7 linked regions of the Homo sapiens genome follow. The protein of the gene in region 3 purifies or fractionates together with the protein of the main gene of each other region. This does not show direct contact. Each region holds a gene or a part of one and is shown on either strand. Other genes may lie near its edges.

Evidence for each region.
Region 1: the proteins of SYNPO (region 3) and COBL purify together in Homo sapiens (affinity purification with mass spectrometry; one large-scale study listed by BioGRID and IntAct). This does not show direct contact.
Region 2: the proteins of SYNPO (region 3) and SCARA3 purify together in Homo sapiens (co-immunoprecipitation; one large-scale study listed by IntAct). This does not show direct contact.
Region 4: the proteins of SYNPO (region 3) and DBN1 purify together in Homo sapiens (affinity purification with mass spectrometry; one large-scale study listed by BioGRID and IntAct). This does not show direct contact.
Region 5: the proteins of SYNPO (region 3) and SPTBN2 purify together in Homo sapiens (affinity purification with mass spectrometry; one large-scale study listed by BioGRID and IntAct). This does not show direct contact.
Region 6: the proteins of SYNPO (region 3) and GNAI3 purify together in Homo sapiens (affinity purification with mass spectrometry; one large-scale study listed by BioGRID and IntAct). This does not show direct contact.
Region 7: the proteins of SYNPO (region 3) and TMOD1 purify together in Homo sapiens (affinity purification with mass spectrometry; one large-scale study listed by BioGRID and IntAct). This does not show direct contact.

Annotation. Positions count from the first base shown.
Region 1 is NC_000007.14:51,026,810-51,030,309, reverse strand, and holds part of COBL (protein cordon-bleu), read left to right. Parts: intron 1-718; coding exon 719-2,598; intron 2,599-3,500.
Region 2 is NC_000008.11:27,664,902-27,668,401, forward strand, and holds part of SCARA3 (scavenger receptor class A member 3), read left to right. Parts: intron 1-3,500. UniProt on the Homo sapiens protein: Seems to protect cells by scavenging oxidative molecules or harmful products of oxidation.
Region 3 is NC_000005.10:150,647,160-150,650,659, forward strand, and holds part of SYNPO (synaptopodin), read left to right. Parts: intron 1-784; coding exon of another isoform or gene 785-1,116; coding exon 1,117-3,144; coding exon of another isoform or gene 3,145-3,174; exon of another isoform or gene 3,175-3,500. UniProt on the Homo sapiens protein: Actin-associated protein that may play a role in modulating actin-based shape and motility of dendritic spines and renal podocyte foot processes.
Region 4 is NC_000005.10:177,460,135-177,463,634, forward strand, and holds part of DBN1 (drebrin), read right to left. Parts: intron 2,293-3,500; exon of another isoform or gene 2,098-2,292; intron 570-2,097; coding exon 510-569; intron 422-509; coding exon 298-421; intron 1-297. UniProt on the Homo sapiens protein: Actin cytoskeleton-organizing protein that plays a role in the formation of cell projections. Required for actin polymerization at immunological synapses (IS) and for the recruitment of the chemokine receptor CXCR4 to IS.
Region 5 is NC_000011.10:66,687,717-66,691,216, forward strand, and holds part of SPTBN2 (spectrin beta chain, non-erythrocytic 2), read right to left. Parts: intron 2,568-3,500; coding exon 2,323-2,567; intron 2,228-2,322; coding exon 2,089-2,227; intron 1,465-2,088; coding exon 1,380-1,464; intron 1,134-1,379; coding exon 937-1,133; intron 596-936; coding exon 453-595; intron 364-452; coding exon 288-363; intron 203-287; coding exon 152-202; intron 1-151. UniProt on the Homo sapiens protein: Probably plays an important role in neuronal membrane skeleton.
Region 6 is NC_000001.11:109,555,115-109,558,614, reverse strand, and holds part of GNAI3 (guanine nucleotide-binding protein G(i) subunit alpha-3), read right to left. Parts: intron 1-3,500. UniProt on the Homo sapiens protein: Heterotrimeric guanine nucleotide-binding proteins (G proteins) function as transducers downstream of G protein-coupled receptors (GPCRs) in numerous signaling cascades.
Region 7 is NC_000009.12:97,504,666-97,508,165, forward strand, and holds part of TMOD1 (tropomodulin-1), read left to right. Parts: intron 1-3,500. UniProt on the Homo sapiens protein: Blocks the elongation and depolymerization of the actin filaments at the pointed end. The Tmod/TM complex contributes to the formation of the short actin protofilament, which in turn defines the geometry of the membrane skeleton.

The sequences.
Region 1 (3,500 bases), on a different chromosome or scaffold from region 3:
ACAGCTAGGGAATCTTTCAAACAAAGCAGCTATGTTATTTTCTCCAATGCACATGTTGAAAATAAACTAAAAATTAGATATTTATCATGCCTTAGAGAGAAGATAACAGACTGCAAAACTGACGAGTAGTTTTTGTCTGACTCACTTTTCAGTTTCCTGTCCTGAGAATGTATAGTTGACAGAGCTAAAAATTTGAATCAGCCATAGTGTGTCCCGCAGGTTCTGACCCCATGACCATTGCATAATTTGGTGCTTGGAAGAGCCATGGTAATTCTGAGATACTCAAGATTTAGTCATCTGCTTCCTTAAGAAGTTAAAGCTACAGCCCGTGGTCCTCTGGATTTTGTTGTGCTTCTAGTGGACATGAGAAACATGGAGGTCAAAACCCAAAACTCATTTTCATGTTTCTGTGTTGAGACAGTTTTTCCAGAGGCTTGGATCTACAAATCAGTTTTTTAAGTGAAGGATGTTGGCAGCACATTGTAACTGAATACCTTGCCTTGAAACATCATGGATCTGCAAACAGCTGTGTTGAGTAATGAAAGTTGAGCTTCTGGCCCCAGGCATATTATGTAGATTACAAACCCAAATAACATTTTAAAACGTATATAAATAATGTATTCAAAAGTAACCTCAGGGAAATCAAAGTCATGGCTGCAGTTACACTAAGTAATTGGTGTGGGAAACATCTGTGATTTGTGTTTGTCCCTCTTTGCAGAAATGGAAGACAGCTATGAAACAGACACCAGCTCCCTCACCAGCTCCATCCATGGTGCATCCAACCACTGCCCACAGGATGCCATGATCCCTCACGGCGACACAGATGCAATCCCAGTAACATTCATAGGGGAAGTTTCAGATGATCCTGTGGATTCGGGGTTGTTTTCCAATAGAAACAACAATGCTGGGTCTTTCGACTCGGAGGGTGTTGCCAGCAGGAGAGACTCCCTGGCGCCACTTCAAGCTGAGCACAGCCAGCCCCATGAAAAGGCAAGGGAGGAAGTACCTGCCCTGCACCCCGCTTCCCATGACGTCGGAAAAGGAATCCGTGTGGCCTTATCTAACATCTCTAAAGATGGGAATCTAATGGAAACGGCGCCCAGGGTGACTTCTTTTGCTTCGAATCTTCACACAGACAACCTAAATGCAAAAGTGAAAGACAAAGTGTATGGCTGTGCTGACGGGGAGAGGACTCAAGCCACAGAGAGAGTGAATTCCCAACCGGTGAATGAAAAGGACAGCAACGATAAAAACGCTGCCTTGGCACCAACATCATGGCACCAACGAGGCCAAAACCCAGGGAAAAGCTACAGACTTAAGCACGGCCTCACAACGTATAAAATCATTCCTCCAAAGTCAGAGATGCGATGTTACGACAGAGATGTGTCCCTCTCCACCGGAGCCATTAAGATTGACGAGCTGGGGAACTTGGTGAGTCCTCACGCCACCGGCATCAGGATCATTTCCCTGTCTTCGTCTGTGCCTGAAGCAGAATCTCAGCCCATTGGGAAAGTCAGAGAGTTCTGGAGGTGCAACTCTGTGGAAAAACACCTGGGCCGACCCTCAGAGAGCTCTGCCAGGGGACCCCCCTCCACCCCTGTGCCCACGCAGACGCAGAATCCAGAGAGCAGACTCCAAGCAGACCCCAAGCCAATATCGCCCCAGCAGAAGTCTGCCCACCATGAGGGCCGGAACCCCCTAGGGGAGGGGAGAAACCAGCCCCCCACCATGGGCATGGGTCACGTGAGGGTGCCAGCAGCTCACACCACAGAAGTCACATTTCTCAAGCCTCAGAGAAGAACGTCCAGCCAGTATGTGGCCTCTGCCATTGCCAAGCGCATAGGAGCCCCAAAAGTCCATGCTGATGTGGTGAGGCCACACGGTTATGCCGAGAAGGGTTATGCAGGCAAGGCGCCAGTGCTGGCTGCACCACCTGTCACTGTGAAAGATGACAGGACATCCAGCCCACACTCAGAGACACAAGGATGGAAGGATGGTGCCCAGTGGCCCTGTGTCACTCCTCCCAACAACCACGGGGAAGATTTGGCAGTGGGAGCCCCTCCTAGGGGGGAGGTCATTGGCCCACACAGGAAGTTGTCTACTCAGGACAGACCTGCTGCTATCCACAGAAGCTCCTGTTTCTCACTGGTTCAGTCTTCCCAGAGGGATCGTGTTTCTGTGGGACAGAGCTGTGGTTTCAGTGGAAAGCAAAGCACAAGTAGCCAGGAGGCCAGCTCAGCATCTGAGCCCAGACGCGCACCTGATGGTACAGACCCACCCCCTCCACACACATCTGACACTCAGGCCTGCAGCAGGGAGCTGGTCAATGGCTCTGTGCGCGCCCCAGGCCACGGCGAGCCTTCCCACCCTCCAGGAGGGTCTGGCACAGAAAGCCACATTCTCCTAGAAAGAGAGGAAAAGCCCAGTGTGTTCTCTACAGATGGAAATGAAACAGACAGTATTTGGCCACCCAGCATTTTTGGGCCGAAGAAAAAATTCAAACCTGTTGTCCAGAGACCAGTCCCAAAAGACACATCCCTGCACTCTGCCCTGATGGAAGCCATCCACTCTGCGGGAGGGAAGGACAGACTACGCAAGGTGAGGATGGCGGCTTCCGGGGCAGGCCTTCCACACCTGCCCACTTCAGTGCACTGGTCTCAGAGTCTCAGAATAAAGCGGAGGAGAGAGAGAGACGGGATTAGGATAACAGTGAGGCTTACCACACAGGTTTCATTTTAACTAGAATTCCCATCATACTGCCTCCAGATATTTGTACTGAACTATTAAAGGGACAAAATGGATGGGTGTGAGGCTAGTCCACACTGACTTCAGGCCCCTGGCTGCCCTGTGGGAAAGGTAACAGCCAGTGATGTCCATCCACAGGGCCAGAGGAATGGAGAGGCCAGGGGCAGGCCCATCCATATGGTTATCCTTGAACAATGGAACAGAGGAGAAAATTCAGGCAGGGCCACTTCTTTCCCATATGCATTTGTAGCAGCAGCGAACTGTCATTCTTCAGTAACACAGGAGTAATTGTAGGACACGCCTTGCCCATTGTCTAGGCACTTAACACACCACAAGTATTATCTCATTTGCATGCTACACCAATGCTAATAATGAGATATTTCTTCCATTTTGCAGATGAAACTGAGGCACAGTGAGGCCAAGGGGCCTCGTCCAAGGTCAGGCACTAGTTAGTGGGGGCCATGGATTCTCTTCTGGGTCTGCAAGATGTAAACACACACATCGGCTCTGGAACACTGGGATGAATAGCAGGAGTGGTCTGCCATTAAGAGGCAGTTTGAAACTACGTAGCCTTTGATTCTTATGTGTGCCTTCTCATAGACAGGGTGTAAAACTGACCCTATAGGCCTCGGCTGACATGAGTGGATTTTCTTTCTTTTTTTTTCCTGAGACGGAGACTCACTCTGTGGCCCAGGCTGGAGTACAGTGGCACAATCTTGGCTCACTGCAACCTCTGCCTCCCGGGTTCAAACAAT
Region 2 (3,500 bases), on a different chromosome or scaffold from region 3:
CTCTCTCCTGGTTGTTAAAGTCACCACATGTAAAATCTCTCACAATTGAAAGCAAATTTCAGGGACACAGTGCACATCCCTTTCTCTGGGGACCTGGTCACTCATTCATTCATCCAGAGACAGGCACAGACAGGCTGTGACACAGGAGCTGGCAATGCGGTCTCCACGTGGCCGGAACTGAGCGGCTATCTGGAATAAAGGGAGGGATTGCAGCGGCTGGAGCCATGTGGAAGGTGCCAAGTCCTGATGGAAGGGTTGGAACTGAGACTGCACAGGCAAGAAGCCTGGCTTCTGATGTGCTCTGGATCTTTAGGCAGAATCACTTCATCCCTCCAGGGCTCTGCTTCATTCAGCTGTAAATGAAGTGGTAAGACCAGCTGATCTCTGAGAACTATTCCAGCTCTAATTAATTCTAAGCCCCCATTTACTCAACAGAAAGACTGTGGTACTTTCATAGTGTTTGTGTCTCTCATAAAATATTTATCTCTTCCTACTCTGCAGGGTAATTTCAGTGTCTGTGCTAGACTGTGTCTGTGCTAGACTGTGTCCATGCTAGGACTATCATTTGGGAATTGTAGACTAAAACCATCATAACGTATTAGCTAAATGACCTGGGGCGGGGCTTTTGGCTACTTTCTTTCTTTCTTTTTTGTAGAGACAGGGTCTCACTTTGTTGCCCAGACTGGTCTCAAACTCGGGCTCAAGCAATCCACCCACCTTCGGCCTCCCAAAGTGCTGGGATTACAGGCAAGAGCCATCACACCCAGCCAAGCTTTGAACTCAGTTTCTTCATCTGCGAATAGAAATATTAATGCCTTTCCTGCCTGTATCCCATAGGGTAATTGTGAGGATCAGTGTTCACAATGGGTGTGAACAAGTTCTTGTAAAATATGAAAGGGTGCTCTGCATAAGGGATTATTATTATGCTAAATTGCTTGGAGACCTAGGCTCCTTGTGTTACTCATCGAGGACCCGGCAGAGTGCTTGGCTCTTGGAAAGTACAAGAAATGTTTGCTCGGTGAATAAATAAATGAAAGTGTGAACAAAAGGTAGAAGCCCAAGATGGGCAAGATACAAAGGGATTCAATCTGCAAATGTGTTGTTCTATAAGCACCACCCTCCATCCTACTTCCACACTGAAGTGTTCAGGAGTTTACCTGTGAAGGACGAAAAAGCAGAGACTGTCATGTCATTCTGCTGTTCAGGCCCAACGAGTTACCTGCGGAGGTGGCAGTGAAGAGGGTTTGGTGGCCCTGACCCAGTTTTTGTTCTCTCAGCCCTGTGATGCTGCTGAAAACTCCACTCAGCTTCTCAGCCTAATAGCTGCAGCCCTTTGTTGGTTTCTAAGCCTCTTTGCACAAACCAATAACAAATCCACAAATGCCTGGAGGGGAAAAGATGTCAGGCTGACTTCAATGAGTCTTCTCTTCTCTGGGATCTTGGCCCTTGGTATCCCTCCAAAGCCTCCAGAAAGATGTTTTGGTCTTTCTCTAACAGCTCTGTTTGTTCTCCGTGGGAGGTTGAATCTGTCATAAACTAGTCCATCGTAAGCAGAAGTCGAAGCCCATGGGCATGTTTTTAACAGCCCTCAGTTGGCAACAAGCAAGTTTGAGAGTCCCTGAGCCAGGCCAATATTCTCATGGAGCAGAGGGGAGCCTGAGCCCCAGCCACGCGCTTTGCTAATATGACAGCTGGGTCTCAAACACTGGGTGCCTGATGTCCACGCCAATGTGCCTCCCACGGCACCAGGCCAGTCCCTCCAGAGGCACCCCTTTGTTTTATTTTCTTCTGTCCTTGTAAGCTGGCCAGTTGCCTTTGACCATAAGATGTACCATGGGCTCCTCCTGGGCCATGCACTGCCCCTCCCATGGGTGGGCAGTGCTGATGCCCGAGACACTGGGCACTCTGCTCACCCCACCCCCTCCTCCCTATCCAAGCTCAGACCACAGAGCCAGCCACTCCATGGTCCCAGACGTGAGGTCAGCTGTGGCTGGACCCTAATGAGCCTGGAAAGCCTGATTACAGCCTGTGGCTTCCTGAGTAATCATGGCCGCCCCCCTCCACCGGACTCCAGGGTGTGCCGGTCCCTCTCCTTCCCACGCACCTCGGCCACTGTTGCCCATCTTCCTTGGTGGCCTGAAGTGCCTTCCCTCAGCTCAGAGCAGCCACTAGCCCTTCTCTAGCCCTTCTCTCCTCTGCCCCTCACCCCTGCCTTGTTATTGGCAGGGTCAGTGGCACCCCGGCCTGGAGGGGCCTTGGTCAGCCTTTGTCCACATTCCTTGCCCCCACACTAACTACTAAACTACAGTTGTTGACTTCCTCCCTAGCCAGACCAGGTCACGCCTGCTGTCAGTCCTCTGCCCGCATGACTCATGCCTGGCCTGGAGGGCAGGTGGTGCCCTGCTCACCTAAGGAAGGCAGCCTTCTGAGTCCCCTTCTCACTCAGTGGGGACCCCAAAGCACTCTTTAGAAAAAGGCTCTGGGGTCTTCCTCCTCCAGGCAGCACCTAGGATTGCAGCCTCTCCTTCCTCCAGGCAGTGCCTAGGATTGCAGCCTCTCCCTCCTCCAGGCAGTGCTGGGAGTGGCACAGGAGCCAAGGTAGCGGCATGGGGGAAGGAGATTGGGTCTTAGAGCCTCTCGGGTCTGGATTGGAATCCTGACGCCAGCACTGTTATCTTGAGCACGTGGCCACCCGCTGCACCTGCATTGTCATCTGTAAAATGGAGCAACAGCCTCCTGCCTGGGACATAGCAGACACTCGACGAAGTTGGCAAATGTCACTGCTCTCATGTCCCTCCCTTCTCCACCCTGTGGGAGATTCAAGAAGGCATGGAGCAGGCAGAGAGTGAGCAGGGCTGACTATGGCACGCCAGCACCGAGCAGCTCCATCCGCCAGCCGTGACACGGGCAGCGAGGGAGGCTTCTGTCGGCACCACAGGCACCTGTCAGTAGCCCACGCGGAGACCCACAAGATGTAGACAGGCCCCCGATAACATCGTCCACTCTATCTTCTCCCGGCCGCTGCCTGGGACACCTCCCACTCCCATCTGGGTTCTCAGAGATGGGGTGAGAAGCGGCAGCTGTGGCTTAGGGGTGGATATAGAGAGGGAGGGAACCCTTCTCCCTGCATCCTCCCTCCACTCACGCTAGGCTGCAGCTCCTGGGCAATGAAGGGAATGATATGACTGAGGCTTCTGCATAAACATCCACCAGGAGCATGTGGGCGCTTGGGCCTCCACACCTAGGGAAAGACTCCCCAGAGCTTTCCGGGAAAGAGGAGCTGGAAGGGGCTGGTCGGGAGGAGGGAGAGTTTTTTCTCCTTTGCTGCTGGCACAGAATCCCTTAGAAATCACAGATAGCCGGGCGCGGTGGCTCACGCCTGTAATCCCAGCACTTTGGGAGGCCGAGGCGGGTGGATCATGAGGTCAGGAGATCGAGACCATCCTGGCTAACAAGGTGAAACCCCGTCTCTACTAAAAATACAAAAAATTAGCCGGGCG
Region 3 (3,500 bases):
TTGAACCTGGGAGGCGGAGGTTGCAGTGAGCCGAGATTGCGCCGCTGCGCTCTAGCCTGGGCGACAAGAGCAAAAACTCCTTCTCAAAAAAAAAAAAAAAAAGTCAGGCAAGGTCATTGCCCCTTGGAGCTATGCTGTAGGTGAGGAGACAGATAATAGACAGGGAAACATAAAGATCATTTCAACTTGGTGAATGCTATGGAGAAAACAAAACAGATGGGATAGGAGAAGGAAAGGTGCCTCCAGAGAGGGGACATTCCAGCTGAGACTTGAGTGGCAAGATAGGAACCAGCATGGACTGCTACCTGGGAAAAGATTATTCCAAGGAGAGCGAGCAGCAAGTCCAAAGGCCCTGGGGCAGGAACATACTTGGCATTTTCAAGGAAGAGAAAGCAAGCCAGTGTGGCAGAGCCTAGTGAGAGAGGAGAAGGCAGTGGGGAGGAACTGGGGACACGGTGGGACTTCTAGGGTGAGGTGTTCGTACTCAGTTTGGTAAAGTGCCATATCAGCAACTGTCAGGGGGATTCCAAATCAGGGACCAGTTAATCCTGAGAGGATAATCAGGGTGGCGTAGACGTGGTGGCATTTGAGTTGGGCCATGAAAGGTAGGTCAGGGCTGATTACGAAGTGAGCTAATTCTAAGAAACAGTGAGTGACGATTAAATTCCAGAAGAGATCCTGTGTAGGAAGGGCCGAGGCGACCATCTCTGTCTGCCTGTTTGTCCGTGCACCCCTGTGTCACTGCATTCCTGTTTGCTAACTGGGCTTTTGTCCCTCCCTGTAGCGTTGGGCCGGAGCACTAGCCTCACGGAGAAGGATCTGAAAGAAGCCAAGGCGCGGAGCCAGCAGATTGCAGCCCAGCTGACCACCCCTCCCAGCTCCAATTCCCGTGGCGTCCAGCTCTTCAACAGGCGCCGGCAGAGGGTGAACGAGTTCACCTTGGAGAGCCACGGCCAGAGGGGACAGAAGCCCAGCCAGGAGTCCCTCAGAGTGCTCCCTTCAAGCCTCCCAGGCCATGCACCGGGGCTCAGCCTGAGTTCCACCTCGCTGCCGGAGCCAGGCCCTCCACGGCACCCCAGTCCCCAGAGCCCCGACAGAGGGGTCCCTGGCCACAGCATGGAGGGGTACTCAGAGGAGGCTAGCTTGCTGCGGCACCTGGAGAAGGTGGCCAGTGAGGAGGAAGAGGTACCACTGGTGGTTTATCTAAAGGAGAATGCAGCACTGCTGACAGCCAATGGGCTGCACCTGTCCCAAAACCGAGAGGCCCAGCAGTCCTCACCGGCCCCACCTCCAGCTGAGGTCCACAGCCCAGCTGCAGATGTCAACCAAAACCTTGCCTCGCCCAGTGCCACGCTCACCACACCAACTTCTAACAGCAGCCACAATCCGCCAGCCACCGATGTCAATCAGAACCCACCGGCAACTGTTGTCCCACAGAGCCTGCCACTTTCTAGCATCCAACAGAATTCCTCAGAGGCCCAACTCCCATCTAATGGCACAGGGCCTGCTTCCAAACCCAGCACCCTGTGTGCTGATGGGCAACCCCAGGCACCGGCTGAGGAGGTGAGATGCAGCACACTCCTAATTGACAAGGTATCAACTCCAGCTACCACCACCAGCACCTTCTCCAGAGAAGCTACGCTCATCCCCAGCTCCAGGCCCCCAGCCTCAGATTTCATGTCCAGCTCCCTGCTCATTGACATCCAGCCCAACACCCTAGTGGTGTCAGCAGATCAAGAGATGTCTGGGCGAGCAGCTGCCACCACGCCCACCAAGGTCTACAGTGAGGTCCACTTCACACTGGCCAAGCCCCCATCAGTGGTCAACAGGACGGCCAGGCCTTTTGGGATCCAGGCGCCAGGGGGCACCAGCCAGATGGAGAGGAGCCCCATGCTAGAGAGACGACATTTTGGGGAGAAGGCCCCGGCTCCCCAGCCCCCCAGTTTGCCAGACAGGAGCCCCCGGCCACAGAGACACATAATGTCCCGCAGCCCCATGGTGGAAAGGAGGATGATGGGGCAGCGAAGCCCGGCCTCAGAGAGACGCCCCTTGGGGAACTTCACTGCACCCCCCACCTACACTGAGACCTTGTCCACAGCCCCTCTGGCTTCCTGGGTGAGGTCTCCTCCCTCATATTCTGTCCTGTATCCCAGCTCCGACCCCAAGTCTTCTCATCTGAAGGGCCAGGCGGTTCCTGCCAGCAAGACGGGCATTCTGGAGGAGTCGATGGCCCGCCGGGGCAGCCGCAAATCCATGTTTACTTTCGTGGAGAAGCCCAAGGTGACCCCGAATCCAGACTTGCTGGATCTGGTACAGACAGCGGATGAGAAGCGGCGGCAGAGGGACCAGGGGGAGGTAGGCGTGGAGGAGGAGCCCTTCGCACTGGGGGCCGAGGCCTCCAACTTCCAGCAGGAGCCAGCACCTCGTGACAGGGCCAGCCCCGCGGCGGCGGAGGAGGTGGTACCAGAGTGGGCCTCCTGCCTCAAGTCACCCCGCATCCAGGCCAAGCCGAAGCCCAAACCCAACCAGAACCTCTCCGAGGCCTCTGGGAAGGGAGCTGAGCTCTACGCCCGCCGCCAGTCACGGATGGAGAAATATGTCATCGAGTCTTCAAGCCACACGCCAGAGCTGGCCCGCTGCCCATCACCTACCATGTCCCTGCCTTCCTCCTGGAAATACCCCACTAACGCCCCCGGGGCCTTCCGAGTGGCATCCCGAAGCCCAGCCCGGACCCCGCCTGCCTCCCTCTACCATGGCTACCTGCCTGAGAACGGGGTCCTGCGCCCAGAGCCCACCAAGCAGCCGCCATACCAGCTGCGCCCCTCGCTCTTTGTCCTCTCACCTATCAAGGAGCCTGCCAAGGTCTCACCAAGAGCTGCCTCGCCCGCCAAGCCCAGCTCCTTGGACCTGGTGCCCAACCTGCCCAAGGGGGCTCTCCCTCCATCTCCTGCCCTGCCTCGGCCCTCGCGCTCCTCACCGGGCCTCTACACCTCCCCCGGCCAGGACAGCCTGCAGCCCACTGCCGTGAGCCCTCCTTACGGCGGTGACATCTCCCCCGTGTCTCCCTCCAGGGCGTGGTCTCCCCGAGCCAAGCAGGCCCCCAGGCCCTCCTTCTCTACCCGGAACGCCGGGATCGAGGCTCAGGTGTGGAAGCCTTCCTTCTGCTTCAAGTAACGAACCCCACGGGGGTCCCACTGCCGGTCAAGTTCCCCTCCTTGAGGGCCAGATGGAGAGCAGATGTGGCAGGAAATGGCACAGAGCTGAGTGAGGAGAATGGGGAGTCCATGGTTCAAGGTCAGATGCGGCCACCAGCTGGCTTTGTGACCTTGGGCGAGTCGCCTCCCCTCTCTGAGCTGAAGCCGCCCCTCCCCTACTACAACAGGGGTCGGACTCCATGTCTGAGCGGGGAGGAGGGTCATGGAGAGAGAACTGTCTGGCAGCCCTGATGCGGTAGAGGGGCATCCTCTGGCCTTTGTGAGCTGTAGGGATGCAGAGTCTGA
Region 4 (3,500 bases), about 27 Mb from region 3:
CTAATTCACCCCAGCCGAGCTGCTCCCCGTGGCCAGCGCTGTGCCTCAGCCCATGCCAGAGCTGCCCCACAGGCCCTAGCACTCCCCACTGTTCAGCCACAAGCGACTTCACCACCATCCCTGGCCCTTCTTGGGGTCCTGCCACCTGGGAAGTGGTGGGCGGATGCACGCTGGATGAAGGGTCTCGCCTTCTCCAAGGGTTGCTTGGGCAAGGCCTCCCTTCTGAGAGAGTCCCAGAGAGGCTCAGGGCCGCAACCTGAGGAGTGGGGCCGGACGGGGGGTGGGGCCTAGGACTACCTGGTCGATGGTTGAAGGGCGAGGGTACATCACAGCTGCCCGCAGAGGCCGATGCGACTCTTTCCTGCTGCTTGAAGAACTCCCTTGGGTTGTCAGGCCGCTGGGCAATAATAGCTGCTGCCTCCTGAGGGCACGAGGAAAAGGTTGGGGCTGGGCCAGGCAAGCTGAGATAGCCCTGTCTGCCTCACCTGGCTGGTGCCCCCAGCTCTCACCTCCACCTCCGACTCTGACTTCTTCATGTGGGTCTCTTCCTCCTCATCCCGATGGTCACCCTAGAAACCAAAGGGACAGTGTCTGGTGCACCTACCCCCCACAGGGGCTTTTGGCCTTCTTTTTTACTGTATTTTATTTATTGATTTTGTTTTTAAGACAGGTTCTCGCCCTACCACCCAGGCTGGGGAGCAGTGGTACAATCACGGCTCACTGCAGCCTCTGCCTCCTGGGCTCAAGCAATCCTCCCACCTCAGCCTCCCGAGTAGCTGGGACTACAGGTGTGCACCACCATGCCCGGCTAATTTTAATTTTTTGGTAGAGATGGGGTCTCCCTATGTTGCCCAGGCTGGTCTCAAACTTCTGGGCTGAAGGGATCCTCCTGCCTTGGCCTCCCAAAGTGTTGGGATGGATTACAGTCATGAGCCACCAGTGCCCGGCCTTCTGGCCTTCTTTTTTTTTTTTTTTTTTTTTTGAGACGGAGTCTCGCTCTGTCGCCCAGGCTGGAGTGCAGTGGCGGGATCTCGGCTCACTGCAAGCTCCGCCTCCCGGGTTCACGCCATTCTCCTGCCTCAGCCTCCCAAGTAGCTGGGACTACAGGCGCCCGCCACTACGCCCGGCTAATTTTTTGTATTTTTAGTAGAGACAGGGTTTCACCGTTTTAGCCGGGATGGTCTCGATCTCCTGACCTCGTGATCCGCCCGCCTCGGCCTCCCAAAGTGCTGGGATTACAGGCGTGAGCCACCGCGCCCGGCCCCTTCTGGCCTTCTTACAGCCCCCATGCTTCTTTCGCAATCTGGCAGGAAGGGTTTCAGAGGTGGTACCTCTGCCCCGTCAAACCCTGTCACACAGCCCCTCTCTTCCCTCAGGGCCCTCAGCCACCTCATCTCTGACCTGCCAGGCCTCTGGGCACCAGGCTCACTCACTCACTTGCTCATCCCCATATCTAAGCAGGTGCCTAGGGCCCTCCAGAAGTGCTCCTTGTTTTGCAGATAACTTCTTGGACCTCCTACCCTAGTGCCGGGGCCACCATGCTCCCAATGTTGCTGCCTGGACCGTGGCATCATGGTCCAGCCTTCCTCACTGCTACCTGCCTTATTTGCTCTCCATAGGCCCTGAAAGGACCTTTCCAAAATGCGGATCAGACCATGATTTTCCTGAGCTTAAAATCCCTCAGGGGTTCCCATGAGCCACAGCAAGCACTGGCTAAATATGACCCACAGATGGCTTTTGTTTTGCTGGTATGATATTTTTAAACCATGTTCATTAGTTACCACCACTTAAAAACCAGGAACTTTCATACTGAGATGAGGGTCCCAGTTTCTCTTGAGGTGACAGAGCCCTGGCGACATCACCTGCAAGCCCGGAGCAGCCATCACCGGGGCCTCGCCGCAGCCCCCTTAAGACAGGCGTGTGCCACCCGCTCACCCCCGGCCCCACCATCGCCTACTGGCTTCACCTGCCCACTGCACACGTTGTTTTGGGTGGGCAGCGCCCGCACTTGGCCTACGTCCCCCACCCCTGCCTGACCTAGCCGTCACCTCTCCAACACCACCCCCTGCCGGCCCCCACCCCAAGGCTCCCACATACTGTGAGATGTAGACATCAAGTCCTCAGCACGACGCAGTCAGTTCCCAGAACAGGCACACCCGTTCCCACCTCCAAGCCTCAGCATGGGAGACTGGCCTCCCTCCCAAATGCCTGCTCCCCACCCGGGGGCCAGGCCCTCTGGTTTCCAGCTGCAGCGTGGCCACTGCTTCCTGGGGAAGGACCTCTGAACAAGAGGCTTGTTCAGGTCATTTCCTCCTCTGGGTCCCCACAGGGTGCTCCTGGCTTCCACCACGATGACACCACATCCTAAGTTCCTGTTTCCGGAGGCACCTCCCCCCTCCGCTGTGAGCAACGCAGGATGAGGACCGGGGTCTCCGGGTGGGTGGCCAGCACAAGGCGGGCGCATGTTTGCTCAACTGCACTCACACACCAAAGGCTTCTTAGTCGGTGTCCCCTGCTGCTCAGGTGGCAGCTTGGGCAGGAGGGGCTGCTAAGGTGGTGAAGTCCCAGGGCTGCTCTGTTTTTGAGCCTATAATCTAAAATTTTAGCTTATGTCAGGAGCACTGGGAGAAGGGCCCTTCGTAGTATCCCACCTCAGGAGGGCTATCACCTCAGTGATAACTTTGTGACCCCCAGAATGAAGTCTAAACTCCTCCTCTGCCCTTGCTCTCCTTTCCCAATCAAATCTCCCCCACTCCTCAGCCCACGGGGTTCCAGTCAGCCTAGGCTCTTCACCTTCCCATGAGCCTGTGTCCCACCAGCCTTTGCTGCTCTGCCCACTGCCTGCTGTAATCTCAGTTGGTTCCTCTGCCTTGTTCAAAGAAAGGACCAGAGGCAACTACCACAAAGGCTTTTTTTTTTTTAATCTGAGACAGAGTCTTTCACTCAGGCTGGAGTGCAGTGGCGAGATCTCGGCTCACTGCAAGCTCCGCCTCCCGGGTTCACGCCATTCTCCTGCCTCAGCCTCCCGAGTAGCTGGGACTACAGGCGCCCGCCACCACGCTCGGCTAATTTCTTGTATTTTTTAGTAGAGACGGGGTTTCACCATGTTAGCCAGGATGGTCTCGATCTCCTGACCTCATGATCCGCCTGCCTTGGCCTCCCAAAGTGCTGGGATTACAGGCATGAGCCACTGAGCCCAGCCCTCCACAAAGGCTTTAATAAACTACCAACCATGTGAACACTGAAACAAGTAAGGCCCAGAGGGAGGAGAGAGATCAACGCACTAACCACATGGGTCAAAGCCACTGCTGTGCCTAAAGCATTTTCAGATACACGGGAGCTCCCCTGCAGGCCAGGCAAAAAGGGAACTCAGATATGGAACACAATTCGTAACAGGGGAGAGAAAGCAACAGCTCCTTAAGCCAAGAGAAAGCATTTCACAGTGCTAAATCCCAAAGTCTCTCGCATATTCCCTTCCTTAGAGGACCTGAAATTGAAAG
Region 5 (3,500 bases), on a different chromosome or scaffold from region 3:
CGTGTCCAGGAGTTGGTCTTCCTGCCCCCAAGCTGCCTGTGAGCCTCTGCCCTCTCCCATCCCATCCCCAGTACTCCCCCACCCGCACTCACCACCCCCTCTGGACCCTTCGCCTCACAGTTATCAACACCACACTTGCAGGGGAACTCACCGGCCCTTCGGGGAAGCTGCTGTGCTCAAGTCTCTGTTGTCCCAGCAGGGGCTGCAAGGACAAGAATCTGTAAAAGGATGTGCGGGGGTGGAGGGGCTACGACTCCGATGGGGGCACAGAGGGACAGTGGGGTCACCTGTGAGGGCTCTCCATCTGTGCAGACTCCATTAACACTGGGTGCTTGTGTGGATGGTGGTGGCCGTGGCTGGGTTCTGGGATGACCAAAGGCAACACAGAATCATTAGTCCCTGGGTGGCCTGGGCTCAGCCGCCTCCTCCTACCCAGGCATCCTGGCTCTCACCCGTCCCAGGTGGTGTCAGAAGCTGTCTGGCCGCCCACCAGGTCCCCTGGAGGCACACTGGCTGTGGGTTCGGGAGCAGGCGGCTGTTTCCGCCGCTCCTCCTCCTCCCTCTTTCTCTTTCGCTCCTTCTCCCGCTCCTCTAGCTGTCAAAAAATGCTGCATTCAGCGTGTAGAAGGTTGCGTGTAAGAGGGCCAGGGAAACAGGGAGAGCTGAAATGTCTCAACTCTAATTTGATGAAATATGATAAGAGGAGAACAGAATTTGAGAAGATGGTGGGGACAAGAAACAAAGCGGGAGAAGGTGTCTCGGCATCACCCAGGGGAACTGACACCTCCTAAAGGTGTGGTGACAATGGCACTCTCAGCTCACATCTGGGGGCCACTGGTGCAGTGGGAAGAGAGAAGACATGTCTTCTCCAAGCAGAAGCCAGCACAGGTCAGGGGAGCAGGTTGGAGTGGGCATCCGGGGTCCTGTGTCCCTCACCGCAGTAAGCTTCTCCAGCGCACAGAATCGCTCCTCCCAGGCCACTGCTGACTTCTGGAAGGCCTCGTGCCGCTTGATGAGGCTCTCAACTTCGTCGACCGTGCAACCCAGCTCAGCGCTGCGCACCAGTGGCTCCTGGCTGCAGAGCCAGGCCTCTGCCATCCCTGCATCTCTTCCAAACACAAGCACCTCCAAAACTGGCAGGATCGGGGGTTGCAGGAAGATGGTGGGTCAGAGTGGCCACTGGCAGGGCACAGTGGCCATGGCAACCTCAAGAACAGGGACACAGAGAAAGCCACTGCCCCAGAGCTGTGCCAGGCAGCACGAAGATTGGGCATCGTGAGTTTCACACCCAGGGTTCCTAGTCTCACCTACTCTGGAACCCACAGGGTGCAGGATGCCCCCCACTCCCCACAGGGCCTGGGGCCCCCTTGGCAGCTCACCCAGCTGAAGCCAGTCCATCTTCTCCTGCCACTTCTCAGCTGTCTCCTGGCGCCGTGCCTGCAGCTGAGACAGCTTCTCTGAGATCTGGGGGCGGGGGGCAGAGATATGAGTTAGCACCAGGATGTGAGATCTTTCCACGGCCCCTGGGGAGTCATCCAGGGGGACAGGTGATTTCTTTCTTTCTTTCTTTTTTTTGAGACGGAGTTTCGCTCTTATCACCAAGGCTGGAATGCAGTGGCGCAATCTCAGCTCACTGCAACCTCCACCTCCCAGGTTCAAGCAATTCTCCTGCCTCAGCCTCCGAGTAGCTGGGATTACAGGTGCCCGCCACCACGCCCGGCTAATTTTTGTGTTTTTAGTGGAAACGGGGTTTCACCATGTTTCATCACAGCCCAGCCACACAACCCATGGAGGCCAGGCTGGTCTCGAACTCGTGACCTCAGGTGATCTGCCCGCCTGGGCCTCCCAAAGTGCTGGGATTACAGGCGTGAGCCACCATGCCTGGCCCAGGACCAGTGATTTCTGATGTCAAGAGGCAGACGGTTCTGGGGAGAGATTTCCAGAATGCGAGAAACCCGTGAATGGCACTGAGGGGAGAGAATGAAAGGTTTCTTGCAAAGAGAGAATGAGAGGAAGCAGAAAGCCACCAAGAAGTCAGCGTTCAGCACTGCACAGTGAGAATGGCCCGGCCACCCAGGCCTCACCCACCTCCTCGGCCGCATAGTGGCTCCTGGCCAGCAGCTCCTTCCCCATGTCGATGCAGGAGGAGAAGCGGTCTGCCCGGGCCTCTATCTCTGCCTTGATGCCTTGCTGGTTCTTGATGACTAGATCCGCGGAGGACACATCCCTGGGGGGAGGCAGAAACAGCATCACCTGCTGCCCACAGCCCCATCACAGCCCAGCCACACAACCCGTGGAGGCCCTGAGCCCTGGGATTCTCACCGGGGACGCTCCTGGGCATCCATCTGCAGGTTGACCTCATCCATCCAGAGCATCAGTTCCCGGACAGCCTTGAAGAAGCGGAACTTGTCTGTGGTGTCCAGCAGCAGCTGCCGGCGGGCGGCAGAGCTTCCCTGAAGCTGGGCCCAGGCCTCGGCCACGGCCTGCATGTGGCGGCCGATCTCCTCAGCCTTGTCTCCAGCGTAGGCCTTCTGGAGCCGGTGGCCGTCGTCCTGCACCTGCTGGACCTGCGGAGCCCCGGGTCAGAGTCAGGCAGAGCGGGGGACTCCAAGGAGCCGCAGCCTGCCTCAGTCCTGGCTGCCACTCTCACCTCCTGCCTGTCTCACAGCCAAAGAAGCAGGGGGAGGAGCCAGGGAGTGGGGGTGCTGGGAAAGATGAAGGCAGGGGCTGGCCACACTCTGCCCTGTTGGGTCTCATCTAGACACCTGGGCTTAACTGGGGGAGGATCTGGAAAAGAGCCATTGGCCAGTTGAACTTTCAGAGGCCTGTCTAGGATGTGATAGACCTTGGAGATTGCTAGAACGTGCTACTTAGCCTGAAAAGGGGATTCAGGCAGGGGCTGATGGGTTCTAGTGGTTGAAGGAAGGATCCATGCTTACTGAGTGTGAGCCTAGAGCTCAAGCCTGGGAAGCACTAACAGGCTGATTTAGCGCAGCATGAAGAGTCTCCTGGCCACTGGGAACCCCTGAAGACATCATGGGCTCTCAAGGGGGCTTGTCATCAAAAGTGTGAATGCAGTGGCTAGATGTCCCCTGCCAGAGATGTTTTCTTTCTTTTTGAGACGGAGTTTCGCTCTTGTTGCCCAGGCTGGAGTGCAGTGGAGGGATCTCAGCTCACTGCAACCTCCGCCTCCTGGGTTCAAGTGATTCTCCTGCCTCAGCCTCCTGAGTAGCTAGGATTACAGGCATGCGCCACCATGCCTGGCTAATTTTGTATTTTTAGTAGAGAAGGGGTTTCTCCATGTTGGTCAGGCTGGTCTCGAACTCCCAATCTCAGATGATCCGCCCTCCTCGGCCTCCCAAAGTGCTGGGATTACAGGCGAGAGCCACCGCGCCTGGCCAAACAGAGATGTTTTCTTGGAGCAATTTCCTCATCTCGAAATGGCCCTCGAAAGAGTGCCGTCCTCCCAGCATTTCTGAGCTCTACCCTAGCTCCTGGGA
Region 6 (3,500 bases), on a different chromosome or scaffold from region 3:
CAGGGTGATGATGAAGCACAGACCCTGAGCTGGTTATATGCATTTTAAAAAATTCATTCCTAAATTAAAATCAAAGGTAATTAAATTCAGGTTACATTAACTATTCTGAGTTGAATGTGTTGATAATGGGACTTTAAAATCCTGTACCCTACTTCAATTTATTTTTAAATTTTGTTTTTGTTTTTGTTTTTTGAGACAGAGTCTCACTCTGTCGCCCAGGCTAGAGTGCAGTCATTCCACCTCAGCTGACTGCAACGTCCGCCTCCCAGGTTCAAGCGATTCTCATGCCTCAGCCTCCCAAGTAGCTGGGATTACAGGTGTGCACCACCACGCCTGGCTAATTTTTGTATTTTCAGAAAAGACGGGGCTTCACCATGTTGGCCAGGCTGGTCTGGAACTCCTGACCTCAGGTGATCTGCCCACCTCAGCCTCCCAAAGTGCTGGGATTACAAGCATGAGCCACCATGCCTGGCCTAATTTTAAATCTGAATTTAAGTTCTCTCTCCCAACTATACAAGATGGTAATATTGAGAATGAGCAGGCACGTTCTCATGAACTAATGAGAAAGTAAAGCAGTGATATGTTTAGTTCCTCAATACTCCCATGTCATTCCATTATGTTCAACTTATATTTAGTGAGTGCCTACTAGGTGTCAGGCACTGTCATCTCTTTATTAAACATTAACTCTCTGGCCATGCATTTAATAGAGAATTTGACCTACTCCAGTCCTTGAAAGGGTCACCTTATAAAACTCATGATACCCCATCAACTCTGCTATACCCAACCATACATGACTGGATTGTGGTTGGCAGATGACAAGGCTGGGCCAATCTGATACTCTTTACCAGGAACCGGGAATGGGATCCTGGGAGCCTGCATCAGATAACATGAAGCACTTGAACTACCGGGTCAGGCGGTGCGTGAGCCACAGAAGATGTCAGAGTAAACAAAAGTTGAAGACTCGGGGGAGGCCATTCTGCTCTAGGAGAAATAGGGGAGAGGGTGGGGGTTGGGTATCACAGTCCATGTACATACAACCTACCTGTATTTCATTTCTTACCTATTCTTGAATGTCTAACACCTATGAAGTTGCCTACTTTGTCCTTTCAATATACCTCTCTTTTACTTGTGACTTGTATGAGTGGTGTTCCTATTCCTTATGGGCAAAAACACTTTAGCATTCTATTAAGTCCTGCAACAGACAAAAAGATGAGAAATACTTAGTCCTCCTGCCCTAAAAGACCATATGGTTAGGACCAGGTAAGTATATAAATAACCATATATAAGGCAGACTATAAGTGGCATAAAAAGTACTATGAGGTTTCAAAAATAGAGGATCATATCATATCCAATTCAGAACATCAAAACAGTTTCACCAATGGCGAGGCATGGTGACTCACACCTGTAATCCCAGCCTTTGGGAGGTCGAGGCGGGTAGATCACTTTAGGCCAGAAGTTTGAGACCAGCCTGGCCAACATGGTGAAACCCCGTCTCTACTAAAAATACAAAAAATAGCTGGGCACGGTGGTGCACACCTGTACTCTCAGCTACGCAGAAGGCTGAGGCATGAGAATTGCTCGAACCTGGGAGGCAGAGGTTGCAGTGATCCAAGATCATGCCACTACACTCCAGTCTGGGCAACAGAGTGAGACTGTCTCGGGAGGAAAGAGAACTAAATAGTAATCATAACAGACAGTAGTCTGAGATTTTTAAAATGTATTTACTAAGAAAAATAAAATATTAAAATCCTAGGTCAGTCTACCAAAAACAAGTTTTTAAAAATTTTTCTGGTCCTTAAAGTCCAAAAATCTGGAATCTAGTAATGACTGAGTCATAGGACTTCGCAACTGACTGGTTGTAAGAGATGAGAGTAACAGAGGAGTTAAAAACAACTGCAGTTTTCAGCCTAGATGAAGTTGAGAATGCTGGTACTGAAACAGAAAAGTTCCCAACAGGTGGATTTGGGGGTGAGGAGTGAAGGCAAGTTCTATACTGGATAAACTGACTTGAGGTAAGTAGCAGGATATAGTTCATTAATACACTGGGGGAAAAGCAGAAAGAGAAGCCATCTCAAGTAGAGAAAACAGATTTTTCAAAAATTCCAAGTAAAAAATTGTCCTCTAAAAAAGGAACCAAAAGACTCTTCACAATGTTTCAGTTTTTTCTTCCGCGTTTTGAACATTCCATTTTTGCACAGCTACTGATTTTCCTGCCATCTGTCTCTCTATATTGTTTTTTCCTGGTTACAGATGAGCGACTTTTAAGAATGGAAGTTAGAGGCTATAATCTCAGTCTATAATCTCAACATTTTGGGAGGCTGAGGTGGGCAAATCATTGAACCCAGAAGTTCAAGGCCAGCCTGGGCAATATGGCAAAACCCCATCTCTACAAAAAATTAGCCAACGGTGGTGGCATTAGCCTGTAGTCCAAGCTACTCAGGAGGCCGAGATGGGAGGATCGTTTGAGCCTGGGAGGCAGAGGTTGCAGTGATGTTGCAGAGGTTGCATTGAGATTGCACCACTGCACTCCAGCCTGGGCGACAGAGTAAGACTCAACAAAAAAAAAAAAGAAAAAGAATGGAAGTTAATGGAAGGACCTGATGAAACACACACAAACACACACACACACACACACACACACACACACACACGCACGCACGCACTCCTTTCCCCAGGAGAAAGTATGCTGTAGAAGAAACCAGGGAAGGAAGAGAGACAGGATAGGAAAAAAGGAAGTATCTGCAGAGGCCTAACAACTCCCTTTTCCTTCCCAAGCTAGAGGATGCAGAAGCTCAGCACCACGGGGGAGGAACAGCATAGTGCTTCAGGTTTTACTAACCATCTCTAAAAGATCTCTAGACTACGAATCAATTTTATTAGAGACAACTGCCTAAAAACTAAAAGACTTTTTTGTAATAATGCATATAAGTTTAGTATGCTAAAAATTATTTTTTAAAGAAACGTAGTAGCAGCGCTTATTAGAACCTTACATGCCCTGTGAAATCTAGTATTAAGCACCCTACTCTATGGCCATCAGTGTACTACAGGAATAGCGTAGTCAGGGAAAATTACATTATTTTAATTCCTGAAAAGGGCCGTATTTTCAGACTGCAAAAGTGATTAATGCTTCTACATGTGGCTTGTCAATTATCCCAGCACCATTTGTGGAACAGGGTGTCCTTTCGCCACTTCACATTTTTGTTTCTTTGTCGAAGATTAGTTGACTGGAAGTTATTTGGCTTTATTTCTGGGCTCTCTATTCTGTTCCATTAGTCTATATGCCTGTTTTTACACCAGTACCATGATGTTTTGGTGATTATGGCCTTACAGTATAGTTCGAAGTCAGGTAATCTAATGCCTCTAGGTTTGTTCTTTTTGCTTAGTCTTGCTTTGGCTATACGGGCTCTTTTTTGGGTCCACATGAATTTTAGGATTGTTTTTTCTAGTTCTGTGAAGAATGATGGTGGTACTTTAATGGGAATTGCATTGAATTTGTAGAT
Region 7 (3,500 bases), on a different chromosome or scaffold from region 3:
GTATCTGCGATGGAGGATGGTGATGGGCTGTGAAGAGTGTTTTGACCCTGCTCTGGGGCCTCATAACCTTGGCTTATTTATTTCTGAAATGACATCATCTATCGATGACTCCTGCTGAGCCCGGTCGTAATGGCCTTTTCCAGTCAATGTTTTGACTTTTCAGTCTTACTAATGGACCAGCCAGGCTGCCAACATTTCTAAAGAGGCCAGTTTACTTTTCCCTTAAAGCCAGAACACCAGATAAATCAATTATTGGGCTGCTAGGAGCCATTATCAGTTTAAAACCACAGGCCTGTTTCTATGGAAAAGCATGAACCAGATAGCACAATTCCGGGCCATTTCCTCTCTTTTGTTTTGTTTTGTAAAATCTTCCTTTGGCTAATCATGATAGAACCTAATTCTCTTTGCTCTTAATGAGAGAATGAGCTCATTGGAGTCAACTTAGGACACGGTCTGGGAGGTTTTCTTTCGTGTTAGGTGTTGCTGGGTTTTTGTCTGATCTGAAAAACTAAACAAACTCAAGCATGCCTTTTGTTTCTCCTTCTCTTATGTCCTTTTGGTTTTCTTTCAGAGAAAAAAATGATTTGTGAAAGGGTTGGACATTACCATCTGTGAGGAGGAAAGAGGGAGGGAGAGGGAGACAAGGGCTTGCGTCCGTCCACGCATGTCCATCCCTGTCTCAGTTCATGTTCTCAGGGGCCCCAGCCTCAGGCCCCACTCACTCTGGGGCTTCAAGGGTGGTGACCCCAGGGCCGTTTCTAGCGATGATTCTGGAGGGTGATGAGTTGTGACCACTGCGTTGTTGCTCTCCATGCCCAAAGGAATGAAGGAAAGCAGAACTGCCTCTGGGCATCCTTCAGCCTCCTTCATAGACTCATCGCTGCTGCCCATCGCTTTGCTGTTGGTGCCTTGGTGCCACTCCTACCCCTATTCTCTTTCCACCGCACACTCTCACAGTCTCATTCACTCCCACGACTCCAGTCACCTCCCAACTCCCTAATTCTTGCATCAAGCTGGACTGTGCTCCTCATCTATAGACATCTCTGCCTCCTGATTCCTTTCTCTTCACCACCCCATTCATTTGCCCACCAAGTCCTGTCAATGCTACCTTCCTTAATTTCTCTTACATCCATTTCTATCGCCACATCCAGTACCCCAGTAAGGACTTCCTCTCTCCCCTAAGCTGCTCTCAGAGCCTCTTAAAGGTATTTCTGCCTCAAGTCATTCCTTCTTCCATGCTGCTCTTAAAAGATCTTCACCTGCGTCAATTGTCTCCCTTCAGGGACTCCCCATTTCCTAAGGGATAAAGACCAGATTCATTAGCCTCTAAGACCGGGCCTCAAGCTACTTCTCCAAAATCATCTCTAGGCACTCCTCCAAATTCTCTTTACCTTCTGGCCATGGCAAAAGCATGCTGTGCCTTCATGCCTCCCTGCCTTTCCCCTGCTGTTCTTTCGGCCTTCAGTGCTGTTCTCCCTCTTCTCAGTCTGTGAACTTGTAATCACCCTTAAAAGCAAAGTTCTTCATTGATTTACCTGTACCCCCACAGCCCCCTGTGCCAACTCAGAGCACCAGCCAGAGTGTGTTCTAAATGGAACCACCCAATGATGTATCTCTGTCTCTGGCTAGACTAAAAGCTCCCTGAGGACGAGGTTTCTGACTCATTTATTTCTGCTTCCCCATGTGCAGCTCAGAGCTTAATGTGTGACATAGTACAGGCACTTCAGGTTTTAATAAATGGCTGACCACCGAATGAATGAATGAATGCATGAAATAAATGAATGAAGGCTCTGTGATAACCAGGACAGTCACACAACACCAACCAGCATTTACAGCATGTTCTCCTACCCGACCAAATCATCAGCTCTATGAGGGCAGAGACCACACCTATTCTGCTCCCCACTGCCAGCTCTCCAGCTCCTATCAGCCCCATCATGATACGTAGCTAGTGTGAATCCAAGAGCTCATTTGAAATTCACAGTAACCCCATGAGGGAGGAACAGCAAGTATTGTTACCTACCTTTTGTAATGGGACAGTGAACCCTAGTAGGAATTGTCCCAGGTCATCCAATTCCAGAAAACTGAAGTGCTCTCCAGGGTTTGACAAACTTGAGAAATGAGTCTTCTTGTTTTATATCCGTGCTTCTCTAACTTTAATGTGCATTGAAATTACTTGGGATCTTTTCAGAAATGCAGATTCTGGTTCAGTAGGTATGAGATGGGGCTTGAGAGTCTGAGTTTCTAAAAAGCTCCTTGCTTCTAATAAGCTCTAATAAGTTGATTAGAAAATAAACTTAATAATTCCTAATAAGCTCTAATAAACATCTAGTCAGGTGGTGTTGACTAGTATCTACAAACCACCACATTTTGAACACCAAGGTGAGTGCTAGTTACCACAAAGCTTCCTCCTGGCCATTGCATTAAGATAGTGGATTTTTAAATCTACAAATGAATTCATTTGTGCCTTGGATCAAAATCAAGGGCTCTTTCTGGTCAGCAAACTTCTTGCAAGTTTGGATCTATGAGCACAAGATGGGTGCCTGGGCAGTGCTGGGATGGGAACCTGAGACACCTGAGACCCTGAGACATCAAAACCACTCAGAAGTGTGCAAAGTGAAGGTAAGAGAGAGGGAGACGTGAGGACAGACTTCCTCCATGCAAACCAAGAGAGATTTAAAAATTCAGAATGGATAGCAACATTGCACGCATTTGCTTATTATGGTTTTACATTGTATTCCACTTACAGCATTAAAAAGGCTTGAGATGGCTTAAAAAATAAACTACATGACCAATGCAACTAGTAAGAACAGAAATTCTAGAAAGACAGGCAGAAACCCTGAAGATTAAGATCACGAAACTCCTGGAGAATCTGATTAGAGCTTATGAATTCTTGCTCCACAAAAATGAATATATTCATATACACAACAATTTGCATATCATTTCAGTGGGTGTGTGATTCCCCTGAAGCCTATTCAAAAGTCCGGGTTAAGAGCACCCGATACAGAGAATAAAGAGAGAAAATTATGCCAGTGCCCTGGCTGAAGATGACAACTGTATTTGGACACTCAAATTGGCTCTGAGATGACTCATGGCAGCCAAGGGGAAAGGGGGGGACAAGATGAATGGGAGGACTCTTGGTGTCTGATAGTAGAAGGAAGAACATCAATCAGTCTTTCAGGAGAGGGAACTATTTTCTTAACCCCAATCCTCAGTATATTGTCAAGACAGGCCACTAGACAGAGGGCATAGTAGTTAAGGCGGACTCCGGATCAGTCTGCACAAGGCCAGGGAACCTAGGAGCAATGAAGGGCAGACTCAAATCCTTCATTAGTCCTTTGGGGGGCCTTAAATAGCAATTGACACATAATGAAACACAATCTATCTTCCTGATTCACACACACACACACACACACACACACACACACACACACACACACACAGACTCTGGAGACCACCTTGCTGGATTCAAATCCAAGGTCTACTAGTTACTGGCTCTGTAA